Linked DNA regions of Homo sapiens: regions 1, 3 and 4 are each reported to be linked to region 2. The links are microRNA targets in miRTarBase. Many come from high-throughput screens and were not tested one by one. Region 2 holds a microRNA gene; each other region holds the end of a gene's coding sequence.
Evidence for each region. The annotated mature microRNA hsa-miR-548n reads CAAAAGUAAUUGUGGAUUUUGU and lies in region 2 at 1,905-1,926, shown strand. An mRNA with a match to its seed (bases 2 to 7 or 8) in the 3' UTR can be bound and repressed. Matches are read on the target gene's strand: a 7mer-m8 pairs with bases 2 to 8, a 7mer-A1 pairs with bases 2 to 7 and ends in A, and an 8mer does both.

Region 1 (3,196 bases), not on the chromosome of region 2:
CCTTTAAGGCAACTGGGTAATTCCCCTTCTCTAGCTAATTGGGGTTACTCTAGGAGCCCTTTCACTTGGAATGTGCAAGATTGTAGAAGCACAACTCTTTGGTTATATTGGACTAGTTATAATAGTGAGTAGATTTCTTTTGTATTCCTATTTTTCTTCCTTATTAATGTATCTTGTTCTCCATTTTTTCTTTTAGACAGAAGATATGTTGTGGGATCATCTATAAAGGCCGTTTTGGGGAAGTCCTCATTGACACACATCTCTTCAAGCCTTGCTGCAGCAATAAGAAAGCAGCTGCTGAGAAGCCAGAGGAGCAGGGGCCAGAGCCTCTGCCCATCTCCACTCAGGAGTGGTGACTGAGGTTTTTATGTAGAAGGGGAACAAAAAAAAAAATATCTGAATTTTGAAAAACCACAAAGCTACAAACTGACCCTCTTTTTTTTTTGAGACGGAGTTTTGCTCTTGTTACCCAGGCTGGAGTGCAGTGGCGTGATCTTGGCTCACTGCAACTTCCGTCTCCCGGGTTCAAGTGATTCTCCTGCCTCAGCCTCCCAAGTAGCTGGGTTTATAGGTGCCCGCCACCAGACCCGGCTAATTTTTTAGTTTTAGTAGAGACGGGGTTTCACCACGTTGGCCAGGCTGGTCTTAAATGACCCTCTTATTTTTAACTTGGATACCTGCTATTCTGCCAAAAGACAATTTCTAGAGTAGTTTTGAATGGGTTGATTTCCCCCACTCCCACAAACTCTGAAGCCAGTGTCTAGCTTACTAAAAAAAGAGTTGTATATAATATTTAAGATGCTGAGTATTTCATAGGAAAGCTGAATGCTGCTGTAAAGTGCTCTTTAAGTCTTTTTTTTTTTTAATCCCCTTCTAATGAATGAAACTAGGGGAATTTCAGGGGACAGAGATGGGATTTGTTGTATGATAAACTGTATGTAGTTTTTAGTCTTTCTGTTTTGAGAAGCAGTGGTTGGGGCATTTTTAAGATGGCTGGCTACTCTTGTTTTCCCTCATGATAATAAATTTGTCATAACTCAGTAACATGAACTTGCCCCTAGAGGTAGTTGTTAATAATTTTGAAATATTAAGGTCTTGCCAAGCTTCTGATGATTCACACCTGTACTACTGATTATTAAGCAGGACAGACTGAGCTTTCTGTTGCAAATACCTTGGAGGAGAAAGTAATTTCTAAATATACAGAGAGGTAACTTGACTATATATGTTGCATCCTGTGCCTCCCTTCATATTAATATTTGATAAAGATTTTAATTTATGTAAAACTTCTAAAGCAGAATCAAAGCTCCTCTTGGGGAAATGGCAAGTCTTTAGGATAGGCAAGACCCTGTATGAATAGTACCAAAGCATTACCGCATGGTAGAGAACACACTCGATTAAAAATGTTAAGCTATCTGAAAAATAAAATGTGCAAGTCTTCAGGATGGCACAAAACAAAGGTTAATGCTTCTTGGGGCACATTTCTTAGAGGGCTTGCTGAGTGTGTAAATATAATCGACTTTTGTTTGTGTTACATGACTTCTGTGACTTCATTGAAAATCTGCACAATTCAGTTTCAGCTCTGGATTACTTCAGTTGACCTTTGTGAAGGTTTTTATCTGTGTAGAATGGGTGTTTGACTTGTTTTAGCCTATTAAATTTTTATTTTCTTTCACTCTGTATTAAAAGTAAAACTTACTAAAAGAAAAGAGGTTTGTGTTCACATTAAATGGTTTTGGTTTGGCTTCTTTTAGTCAGGCTTTCTGAACATTGAGATATCCTGAACTTAGAGCTCTTCAATCCTAAGATTTTCATGAAAAGCCTCTCACTTGAACCCAAACCAGAGTACTCTTACTGCCTCTTTTCTAAATGTTCAGGAAAAGCATTGCCAGTTCAGTCTTTTCAAAATGAGGGAGAAACATTTGCCTGCCTTGTAATAACAAGACTCAGTGCTTATTTTTTAAACTGCATTTTAAAAATTGGATAGTATAATAACAATAAGGAGTAAGCCACCTTTTATAGGCACCCTGTAGTTTTATAGTTCTTAATCTAAACATTTTATATTTCCTTCTTTTGGAAAAAACCTACATGCTACAAGCCACCATATGCACAGACTATACAGTGAGTTGAGTTGGCTCTCCCACAGTCTTTGAGGTGAATTACAAAAGTCCAGCCATTATCATCCTCCTGAGTTATTTGAAATGATTTTTTTTGTACATTTTGGCTGCAGTATTGGTGGTAGAATATACTATAATATGGATCATCTCTACTTCTGTATTTATTTATTTATTACTAGACCTCAACCACAGTCTTCTTTTTCCCCTTCCACCTCTCTTTGCCTGTAGGATGTACTGTATGTAGTCATGCACTTTGTATTAATATATTAGAAATCTACAGATCTGTTTTGTACTTTTTATACTGTTGGATACTTATAATCAAAACTTTTACTAGGGTATTGAATAAATCTAGTCTTACTAGAAAATAAAAGGAGCTGTTTTGTGGCTTTGTTTGACAGGTCTTCAGTAAGAATAATGTTTTTGGCTTTCACATATACTCAGTTTAAGTGCTTAGTATTAATAACAAGCCATGAAGGGAATAAATTCCTCTTCACTGAGACATAGACTTTGGAATAAAAGACATTTTAACTGATGTGCACAATTATTAATCTAGTGGATAAGATGGATTTAAAAGGAAGAACAAAATGTTCCCAGTACTTTTTACTGTCTGTGGTTTTATTACTATCTATGGGCATAGTGGGAAGCATCATTGAGACTTTAGGGAAACTATAAAAGTTGGAAGGGTGGTGGCATCAGGGGTTGGATGCTGGTTCTCAAGTTCCTAGCTCTGCCCCTTGTTAGTCATTTGAGTTAAATAATTAATGGGAATATCTACTTCACAGGATTATGAGGAATCCTAAGAGGTGTAATCCATATCAAACTTTTAGAAACCAGTTGTTTTATTACCTGGGAAAGGTAATAAAGGGCCAGACTTTTTATACTACTGTTAGTATTTAAATTTGGGATAGTCTGGATGCCACCTAATACAGTTACTATGAAATTAACAAGGTAACTAAGGAAGTTGATAGTACCAGTATTATCTATTGCTATGTCCTAAATTACCATAGATTTAGTGGCTTAAAACAAATGCGTCTCAGTTTCTGTCTGAGCATGGTTTAGATAGGTCCTTTAGAAAGCTCATG
Region 2 (3,196 bases):
TAAAACTCCTGTTTGCAAGATGAAAATGCAAATATATGACGTAAGTGCTTCAATAATGAATTGATGGCAATATATTTTTTTCTGTTCCAGAAAACACCAGTTTGATCATGGAGAGGTAAAGACTTAATATGACTATAATTTTACTTATCTTAAAGTTGCATGCATTTGGACTTTCCTTTCTAGTTCCAGTTTCTAACTTTGTTGGCAATTGTCAGCAATCATCTTGAAAATAGCCTGTTATGTGTTTTTATGAGAATGCTATATGCAGATTCACTGACTATTCATTTGTTAAAATTAACTAGGAAACTCATATGTTCTGCTCTGATCATCTTTACACTAATGGCAGTTGATTTCTGGAGCCCATTTAGACATATGTATGAGGTGTCTATTGCATGATTGGAAATCACTTTCCTCTCTGCTCACCTTGCTTGAGGCCTCAGAGATGTGATTGGTTACTGCTCCCATCTCCTAGTTGTCCAGTCTGGTTTTGAGGGCAGTTCCAAGGTGGAGCCCTCAGATCTTGAGGCAGCAGTCATTTCTTTTACCACTGTCTTTTCTTGGTCTGATGGTAGCATCAAGGTTGATTAAAAAATGTGGGCTTTATTAACCACAGGTTTGACTCTGAGAATCACAGAAACACTTGCCTTAATGACTTTATAATTTTAGCCTTCCACTAAAATGGAACAGTTTGAAAGTGAATTTTAAGAATTGTTTTCGAAGTTTCAGAAACCTTAGTAGTATTTTTTGTTACTAAGGAGAACGTACCCCTTTCTGCATATTGCCAGTTTAGTATTCTTAAACTTCACAAACAGTAGGAGTAAAAAACATTTTCTTCTTTCTTTCAGCTGGTTTACCATGCATTGCAATTGTTAGCATATACAGCCCTTGGTATTTTAATTATGAGACTAAAACTCTTCTTGACACCACACATGTGTGTTATGGCATCACTGATCTGCTCAAGACAGGTAACATGTTATGTTGGAGTATAGCTACTATGATAATTTTAGCCTTTATTATTGAGTGGCCCTAAAATAATGAATTACAAAGTCTTTTAAGTGATTATAGTTAAAGCTCTTCATGGTTTTGTACTTATCTTTCTTAAAGGGTAAGGGCCAAAGCTGATCATTTTCTATCTTTCTAAAGATTTAAAATAGTTGTTGGTGTACAACTAATACCGATTTAGTACAGACTGAGTTCATGAGTGATTACTGCAGGTGCTGATAGAAAGCAGAGCTTAATTGTACAAATAATAACTTTTTTTGTTTTGACATTCATATCACAAAGAAATCTAATAATTTCAGGTTATAAGTGCTTGAAAATTATATGTTCTTTTTTTAGTATCAAACTTATTTTTTTTTCAGTTGGTGCAATTTGTGTGCACATTCTTGACTTGTGCTTTTTAAAATTTAGTTTAAGCCTTCCTTGGTGGTTTGCTGCTTATTTTTCCTGGATAGCTGCCTCCTTGTTCTGTATTCACAGATTTATGCTTCTCCATAGTGTCACCTTTCCATCAGTCAACCAGCCTAGGTACAACAGCAGCACCTCCCTTAGACGTAGCAGATAGTCACTAAGCACCTACACTGCGCACTCTAGGGATGGAGGAGAGAGTAGTAGACAGAAAAGTCAAAAGCCAGTGTTTATAAGCCCTCAAGAAACTTGAAATCTAGCTCTGTAGACATGTGGAGAAAGATCAAGAGAACAAAGTGTTGTTATGGAGTGTGGACTATTTGGATGTGGAAAAAATTAGCCAGCCTTGAGGTTCCCAATCAGTATGTTGTATTATGTTAGAAAGGCACTACTTTCTACCTTTCTGACCCCTTCAGGCTGGCACAGGAAAGGAGGCTGGTTGGAAGCCTTTAATCTTGAGTCTTATCCCACAGCATGACTGATGATATAGGTTGGTGCAAAAGTAATTGTGGATTTTGTCGTTAAAAATAGCAAAACCCGCAATTACTTTTGCACCAACCTAATAGAAAGTGTCACCCAGGGCAGGTTTTCCAAGTGTGGGGTTCCTGCTGGTCACACAGGACCTCACATTCAGGACCCTGAACTTGATTGAATGTTTGCTGCTGCTGTTTTGAACGTCTTAATTTTTTAACAAGAGACCCCACATTTTTGTTTTGTACTGGGCCTTGTAAATTGGTTGTGGCTTTACTTGAATCTGGGAGTAGTGAAAGCAGGTTGAGAAAAGAGCTTCCTACATTGTGTTCCACTTATATGAGGCTGATGGTAGAATCCTTTTGATCCCAAAGATTATTATTTTGGGGCTTTTTCTTTAGGATAATTAATCCTTTATTTGGGACTCTAGCAGAGGCCTTATTCTTCTCTGGGAAGAAGTTTTGCATAACAGATGCATACTACTTATACTAACAATTACCAATGTATTCTTAATTTGGTTTCAGCTATTTGGATGGCTCTTTTGCAAAGTACATCCTGGTGCTATTGTGTTTGCTATATTAGCAGCAATGTCAATACAAGGTTCAGCAAATCTGCAAACCCAGTGGAATATTGTAGGGGAGTTCAGCAATTTGCCCCAAGAAGAACTTATAGAATGGATCAAATATAGTACTAAACCAGGTAAAAAAAAAAAAAAGAAAAAAAAAGTCATATTATTTAGCTGTTTTTCCCACAATTTTATATACCACTGCAAACTCTTAAACCCTAGTTACTTCCACTGATCTCACTCTTTCTATGCAATGTTGCTTTTAGAATATCTAAAACAAAGGAGATATCAATCCTGTTTAAATGGTTTGCAGGGGAAATGTTATACATATGTTCTTAGTAATTTATTCTGCCATTTTTTATAGATTTTAATTTTTTCAAAATTTATTCACAGTCATAAATGCCACATTTAAAATAATTTTTCCTGTGCTTATTTTCTTAATGAATTTTTAATATTAGTCCTTCACATTCCTTCTTGAAATAAACTCATGGAATGTGACATTTTATTCATGTGTGGAAAGGGAGACTTTGTTGTCATCTGAGTATCAAATGATTGAATACTAAATCATCTTCCAGAACTCCTTGTTACTGTAAAGCTTTCCTAGTCCATTTGATACTTCTTTTTTAGATTCAGGAAAGATTTCTAAGATTTTTTCTTTAAAGAAAGAAAGAAATCTTTAATGATGAGATGATGAAGCTCTGTTTTCCAAGGAAAATAGTTTACCCAGGCCTGGCTGCCAACTGCTACTTTATC
Region 3 (3,000 bases), not on the chromosome of region 2:
AAAAAAATCACAAAACAACCCCAACAGTGGTGAAGAACTATATTAAAGATGGCTTTTCCTAAGACAGAGGGAGAACAAAAGCAAATAGCACTCTCCCTCCGCCAAGGCTAGAGCAGGAGGTTCAAGGAAATGGGCAGGAAGAGAACAGAACACTCAAGCTGGACGATTAGTGAAGGAAACTGTGGCCTGAGACTGATGATCAGCATATCTTATGCCTAAACACCACCACTAAGACTACCTGGCTAAGCTGCCATGGTGTGTTAGAGATGATGAGTTACTTTTCTTGCCCCTTTTACAACAGGGAAATCTAAGGACAACAAAATAAACAAAAGGCTGAGAAAGCTGAGCATGTGAAGTCAGTCATGCTCCGCTGCTTTTCAAAAACTCTGGGCCAAGAACAGAACCAGAGAGGCCAGAGCAGTTCATGTATTTCTCTCTTCCATCTGACCATCTCTCATCTTCCTCACCCACTCACACGGTTCCGAGCAGGAGGCTTACCAGGTCACCAGGGGCAGGAAAATTTCTAGCTTCAACCAAGCCATGGACTGCCACTGCTCTTTGGGGATTCTAGGAAAATAATCATCTAATGAAATGTCAGTATTTGTGATTCTATGAGAACAATTCTCAAAACATCAAAAAGACATTTGTGACTTGGTAAAATAAAAATCAAAGAAAAATTAAGGTATTTTTAGAATCTGTAAGATTTCCTTATAATAGGAGGGAAAGTAGCAGAACTATTTTAAGTAAGGACATGCTTCCCTTCAGTCTGTAATGAAAGACTGTTGTTGTCATCATGCCATTGCCATGATAAAATACTACTAGAAAAGGATAGCTTTTAAAATAAAGTGTAGACGCAAATGGTAGAGAAAGCCTTCTTGTACTTGAAGGAAAGAAAGAAAGTATTCTGTCCCTGTTACTCCTGGACAAAAGTACACCAAGGCAACCTATAACCTCTCTGTGCTGTCTCTCATGACTTTTAATGACACGGAAGTCTGATATTCACTGAACAGTCATTATACAGTGCTTGGAAAGTAACATATATTTAATATTCAAATTTAATATTCATTCTTCTTATCCTCAGGTAAAAAAATAGCAGAAACCAAATAATGACTTGAAGTGGCATTAACACAAAGCAAACCTGATACCTATGATACCTAAAGACAGTGCAGGACAAGAGCTTCAACAGCTTTTATAAAACTGCCAGAGATTGTGCTAATTCTTTTACATCTAAAGAACTGTATAGAAGAGTAAAAAAATTAAATTACATTTATATAAGAAACTATCTTCGAAAAAGTTATTTGAACTTGTATATACAAAGTCCAACAGTATTAAGAAAAAAATTTATTTAATTATCATTTATATAAGTCCAAAAATGATATAATATATTATTTGAGGGGAAAAGGCTTCCACGAAATAGAAATACAGTAGACTAAATAAACTAGATTGAATATAAAATAGTTTCTTTGAAAACATCCATAAAAAGTAAAGACCAAATGGCACAAAGTTAAAAAAGTAATGCTTAAGGCAAACCAAATAAGTAACCTTAATTGAAGTAAGAGACATACTAACCCACAAGCAATAAAGTAACCCCCTCTCAAAAATTTCTGTATTAAAATGTGTAGAGAATATGAGTGGAAGCAGAAACAATGGCTGTTGTCAGAGCTTATTCTTGGAAGTACTGAACAGTATTATACAAAAATAATTTGAATACTTCTGATTTAAAATATACTTGAATCATTTGCCCCTTAGCTGTCATATAGCAATGAAAAAATAAAATGTATTACCCCAATGTTCATAGTATAAATCTGGGAAATGCCAAAAGTTATGTTTAAAATTGACAAAGGTATGATTTTCCAGATTACATGTGTACGTGATGGCCAAAAAGGAAAATAATCAATTCCATTATTTTGGCCCATATTACTGAAAACATGCACAGAAATGTGGAACATCTCCCGACAAGTAGGTGTCTTATAGTGACTGTTGAGCAGGCTGCTCAGCACCAGCCCTGAGATCGTGTGCACATACAAAAGTAGTCAAAGACTGACAGAAAAGAGATGAAGCCAAAGCAAATCATGCTTTTATAAACATTCAACCAACATGTTCTTTAATAATGTCTTCTTTAAAGAACAAAATAATCAAGTACATGGCATTAAGTTAAATGTCTCTGCACATGAATTTCCACCTTATAAATCTGGTATATTAAATTGTGCTGTAAATAGATTTGTATATTTTCTTTTTTGAGTACTATGATAGGTGAAATGGTATGACTATAAAAAGGATTTGTTTCTTTTTGTCTCCTGGAATGACATGATGCCTTTCTAGAGAAAGAAAAATTGCAGGCTACAGGAAAATGATAAAAACTACTGGATTCATTTAGACTATTCGATTTAGGAAGGTACAACCACTTCTTTAACATCAAGCTAAAAGTGGGGGAAAGTCTCAGTCTCCCAGGTAGGTCTCCTCTCACACTGTCCTGGGTGGCAGGCGCTGTTTATACATGCCCGCTATCGCTCTGGCTGCACTGTAGATCATCTGCCGACGGGACATCCCAGTAAATGCCATGTGCCAATCAGTCCGGCTGACATTCAGTAAACTCTTTTCCAGGACTTCACCCACTGTCACCAAAAGGCCTGACCACCTCAGATTATAGTCCTGGGGAGTTAGACTTTGAGCCTGTGGAAAGATGAAATTGATATTACTTATAATACATTTAAAAATATCATTGGAACTAGCTATAAGTGACATTTCAAAGTGTTTCATGTTATTTTAAATATAGATTATGACAAACTCTGAGAAATACAGCTAGGCTGCCAACTATATCAACTTACAAGGCTAGAACACAATCAATGTAACATTACACACATCTATTTTTTAAAAAATATCCCCATTAACGAGGCTAACAGTCGGAAGGTTTGAGTTCTAGTTCTAAATTAAGTGTCACTTCAGGTTAATAATAAGATTGGTACTAAAATCAGTGCTAAAGTTATCTTTTATAGTAGT
Region 4 (3,166 bases), not on the chromosome of region 2:
CCATTTACTCTTCCTAGTCATCAGAGGGAGATTTTGTTGTTATCTCCCTCTAAAGATCACGGAACTTAGGCACAGAAAAGTAATTAGTCCAGGTTTGACGAATAAGTGACTAGTAGATGCTGAATTCAGATACTGGTAGTCTGGCTTCTAACTACTTCTCTAGTTAGATACTTCAAAAAAAGAGAAAGAAACAGCCTATATTTTATTTAACTCAGCAAAAAGTCCTTCTTATTTCATCATTTTGTTCTTACCCCTTTTTGTTTGAGTTTTAGATACTTTCTAGGCATATTCCTGCAAATATAATACCTATTAGGGGAACTCTGCATGATACTAATGATGCTCAATTTTTTTCTGTTGACAGGGGAGCCTTAGCATCATCAAATCTAAAATTCCAACATACTGCTCCATATGCTGTTGAAGAAGGGAGCCAACAAAAATTGTTTTTTCTACCTGTTGACGTGTCAAGCACTAACTGTGGGTACTCATTTATTTTATTCTTTTGTAAATCACAGCCACCATTCATTATTTACTAGGTTAAGATGAATAGACACTGAATCAAAGTTATTCATCAACAAAAAAGAACAGTTACTAATGGAAAGTTATTAAAATAAGTTCTATAAGAGTACAATTTTGAGGTTTATTTTTTGTATTTTTATTATTTGTGCGAAGAACCATTATTGAGTTTGCAAGATAAGATGTATTTGTATTTTCTAGTGTCTTTTTATTTATAACAACACTTTTTTGGCAATCAGTTTGTAGCTGTGCCCTTATTTTTATAGATAGTTTGCCATTTCTTGGGTTTAATGTTTAACAAGGCTATAGAAGTTTAAAATAGTGGACAAATGTTTGTGAATACACTTTTAAAAAATTGTTTTAAAAGAGAAAAGCGGTCTTGCTTTGTTGCCCAGACTGGAGTGCAGTGGCATAATCATAGCTCACCGCAAGCCTCAAATTTTTGTGCTCAGATGATCCTTTTCATCTCAGCCTCCTGATTAGCTGGGACTATAGGCGTGTGCCACCATGCCCAGCTAATTTTGAAATTTGCTTGTAGAGATGGGATCTCACTCTGTTGTCCAGGCTGGTCTCAGAATTCTGGTGAGTGATCCTCCCACAGTGGACTTCCAAAGTGCTGGGATTACAGGTGTGAGCCACCATGCCTGGCCCCATGAATACACTACTAATATTATTTGTAAATATGTATTTTATAATGTACAATGCTTGGAAAATTTTCAGAGTATTCTAGTTTAAAAAATTTTTTCTAATTCTGTAAATTCTATTACAAGTATGTTGTTTATTACAACTCATTACAACTACCTAAATTTTAGGTGTTAACTGTATTTAAGTAAATGTGTTATTTTTGCATTTCATAGCCAGAAAATACTGATGTTCACTTAAAGATATTCAGCAATTAAAATGTTAAAACTTGTACATGCATTCATTGATTTTGTTGTGCTTATGTTTAGCAATTTTTAAGAAGCTTTTAAAATATAATATAGACATAGTTCAGAATTTTGATGTAATAGAAGCAATTCCCTCTGGCTACAACAGCTGCCTGCCTGCTGGCCTTGCTTTTACCTGTTTTCATTGCATTGAGCACCATCCAGAGCTATCTGCCATCTAGAAAGTACTGTAAGATTTAATTAATTACAAAATTTCTTGGAAAAGACCTGTAACATAGACAGTAGAGTTATAAACATTTTATTTTGCTTTTATTTTTTCTTTTTGAAATACAAAATGTGCACATTGAGTTTACACAAACACGTGATGGCAAATTTCAGTGTACATGTATTGTACTACTCTTAATTTCTACACTGGTGATAGCAGGGCAGCTTTCAACATCCTATCTCTACACCAGAATAGATACCTGATTTATTGTTGCAAAGACAGTTGCAAATTTCCTCCTTCTGTAGCCTCTTGGTCTTTGTGATATTTCTACAAAACAGGGACGATGTGTGTGGCTTTAGTAATGTGGCAACTTTACAGTTTTGGCTAAGATGATTAAAAATAATCTGAATTATGATGAGCTAAATCATACTGTAATCTGGATTAGTTGTTGAGCACTTATTTTCTACTAAATCTTGGTAGTAGTTGTCAATGTAATGGAACCACTGGTGCTTTCAAAGTGAATTTTGCTTGCTAATTTTGCTTGCTGTTTGTTCTTAGTAGACAGTGGGGTAGTCAAGGTTTCTTTCTTTGTCCCTGAATGGCTTGTAATATAAATAAACATGCTGTAAGGAAGTCAGGGGAAAGAGGACAGATTTGGCCTTTAATGCTGTTAGGATTACTTGTTATTAAGCATTACTATATACTGGAGGATAGATATCCTGACCCTTTGCATATGTCTGTAAACATCCTTGTTTTGTTTGATGCCTTCTTCAACTTCCACTTAATGATTGATACTAATGATTGATACAATAGAAAACAGCCTGTAAGAAAGATTGAACAAATCCAAAATTATTATATAGGCCTTGGCTGTAACATATTATGGAAAATTAAATGCTTATTAAAATAAGTTTTATTAGGCATATGCTGATATCTGATAATAAACTAATTTTTAAATGTTTAATAATTTTTAAATGTTTAAAAATGCCAGATAAAACTAATTTCTAACAGAAGGTGGGAAGGCCATAGAAACTGGAACTATGTGTTTTTTTAATTGTTGTAATCTTGTTTCCTTAAAGTATATAAATGGAATTTAAATGGAATTACAGCATTCAAACATGAAAATTAATTTAATTTCTGGAAATTAAATGCAGATGTCACTATATTAGAAAACCATTCAAAATCCTAGGACTGAATACATACAAATGAGTAGCAAAAAACACTGATATTTTAAAATCACTGATATGTGAAAGCCTCAATAATCCCATGGCTAAGGAACCAATAAAACTATATGCCAGATTCTATTACTTTTGAATATTCACAGAGTATGAAATGAGTTAGACCATCCCCTGAACTCAGTGGCATTATGAAAAGGATGCAAATTTATAACTGAAAGCTCAAATCTTTTGGGGATTGCTTTATATTAAAACAAAGCTTGTTTGCATAATATGCTTCAGTGTCAAGCTGAGCAATCTATGCTAAAAGTGGTAGCTCCAACTTTAAGGGTGGTAGAATAGTTCACATTTGTCTGTTGGATTCAGGATCTATTTGACAAGTTAAATCA

Region 1: the mRNA of SINHCAF is a reported target of hsa-miR-548n. Seed matches in the 3' UTR shown: 7mer-m8 at 2,405-2,411 and 7mer-A1 at 2,438-2,444.
Region 3: the mRNA of PRRC1 is a reported target of hsa-miR-548n. Seed matches in the 3' UTR shown: 7mer-A1 at 2,422-2,428, 7mer-m8 at 2,026-2,032, 7mer-m8 at 1,509-1,515, 7mer-m8 at 1,479-1,485 and 7mer-m8 at 926-932.
Region 4: miRTarBase lists PACRGL as a target of hsa-miR-548n. Seed matches in the 3' UTR shown: 7mer-A1 at 857-863 and 7mer-m8 at 2,908-2,914.

The regions. Positions count from the first base shown.
Region 1 is chr12:31,279,872-31,283,067 of GRCh38, reverse strand. It overlaps SINHCAF (SIN3-HDAC complex associated factor), which reads left to right. Exons shown (of 6, transcript NM_001135812.2): 6 at 197-2,484. The coding sequence ends at 356. Among named protein-coding and RNA genes, the nearest start is that of FLJ13224, 43 kb to the left of the region's middle.
Region 2 is chr7:34,939,534-34,942,729 of GRCh38, reverse strand. MIR548N (microRNA 548n) reads left to right here and starts at 1,896; the gene lies at 1,896-1,970. It overlaps DPY19L1 (dpy-19 like C-mannosyltransferase 1), which reads left to right. Exons shown (of 22, transcript NM_001366673.1): 17 at 91-115; 18 at 846-965; 19 at 2,403-2,577. It overlaps LOC102724723 (a long non-coding RNA gene), which reads right to left and starts at 504. Exons shown (of 3, transcript XR_001745166.2): 1 at 424-504.
Region 3 is chr5:127,551,380-127,554,379 of GRCh38, reverse strand. It overlaps PRRC1 (proline rich coiled-coil 1), which reads right to left. Exons shown (of 9, transcript NM_130809.5): 9 at 1-2,673. The coding sequence ends at 2,464. Among named protein-coding and RNA genes, the nearest start is that of PRRC1, 35 kb to the right of the region's middle.
Region 4 is chr4:20,726,924-20,730,089 of GRCh38, forward strand. PACRGL (parkin coregulated like) reads left to right here. Exons shown (of 9, transcript NM_001258345.3): 9 at 362-3,166. The coding sequence ends at 418. KCNIP4 (potassium voltage-gated channel interacting protein 4) reads right to left here. Exons shown (of 9, transcript NM_025221.6): 9 at 1,683-3,166. The coding sequence ends at 3,159. Among named protein-coding and RNA genes, the nearest start is that of PACRGL, 28 kb to the left of the region's middle.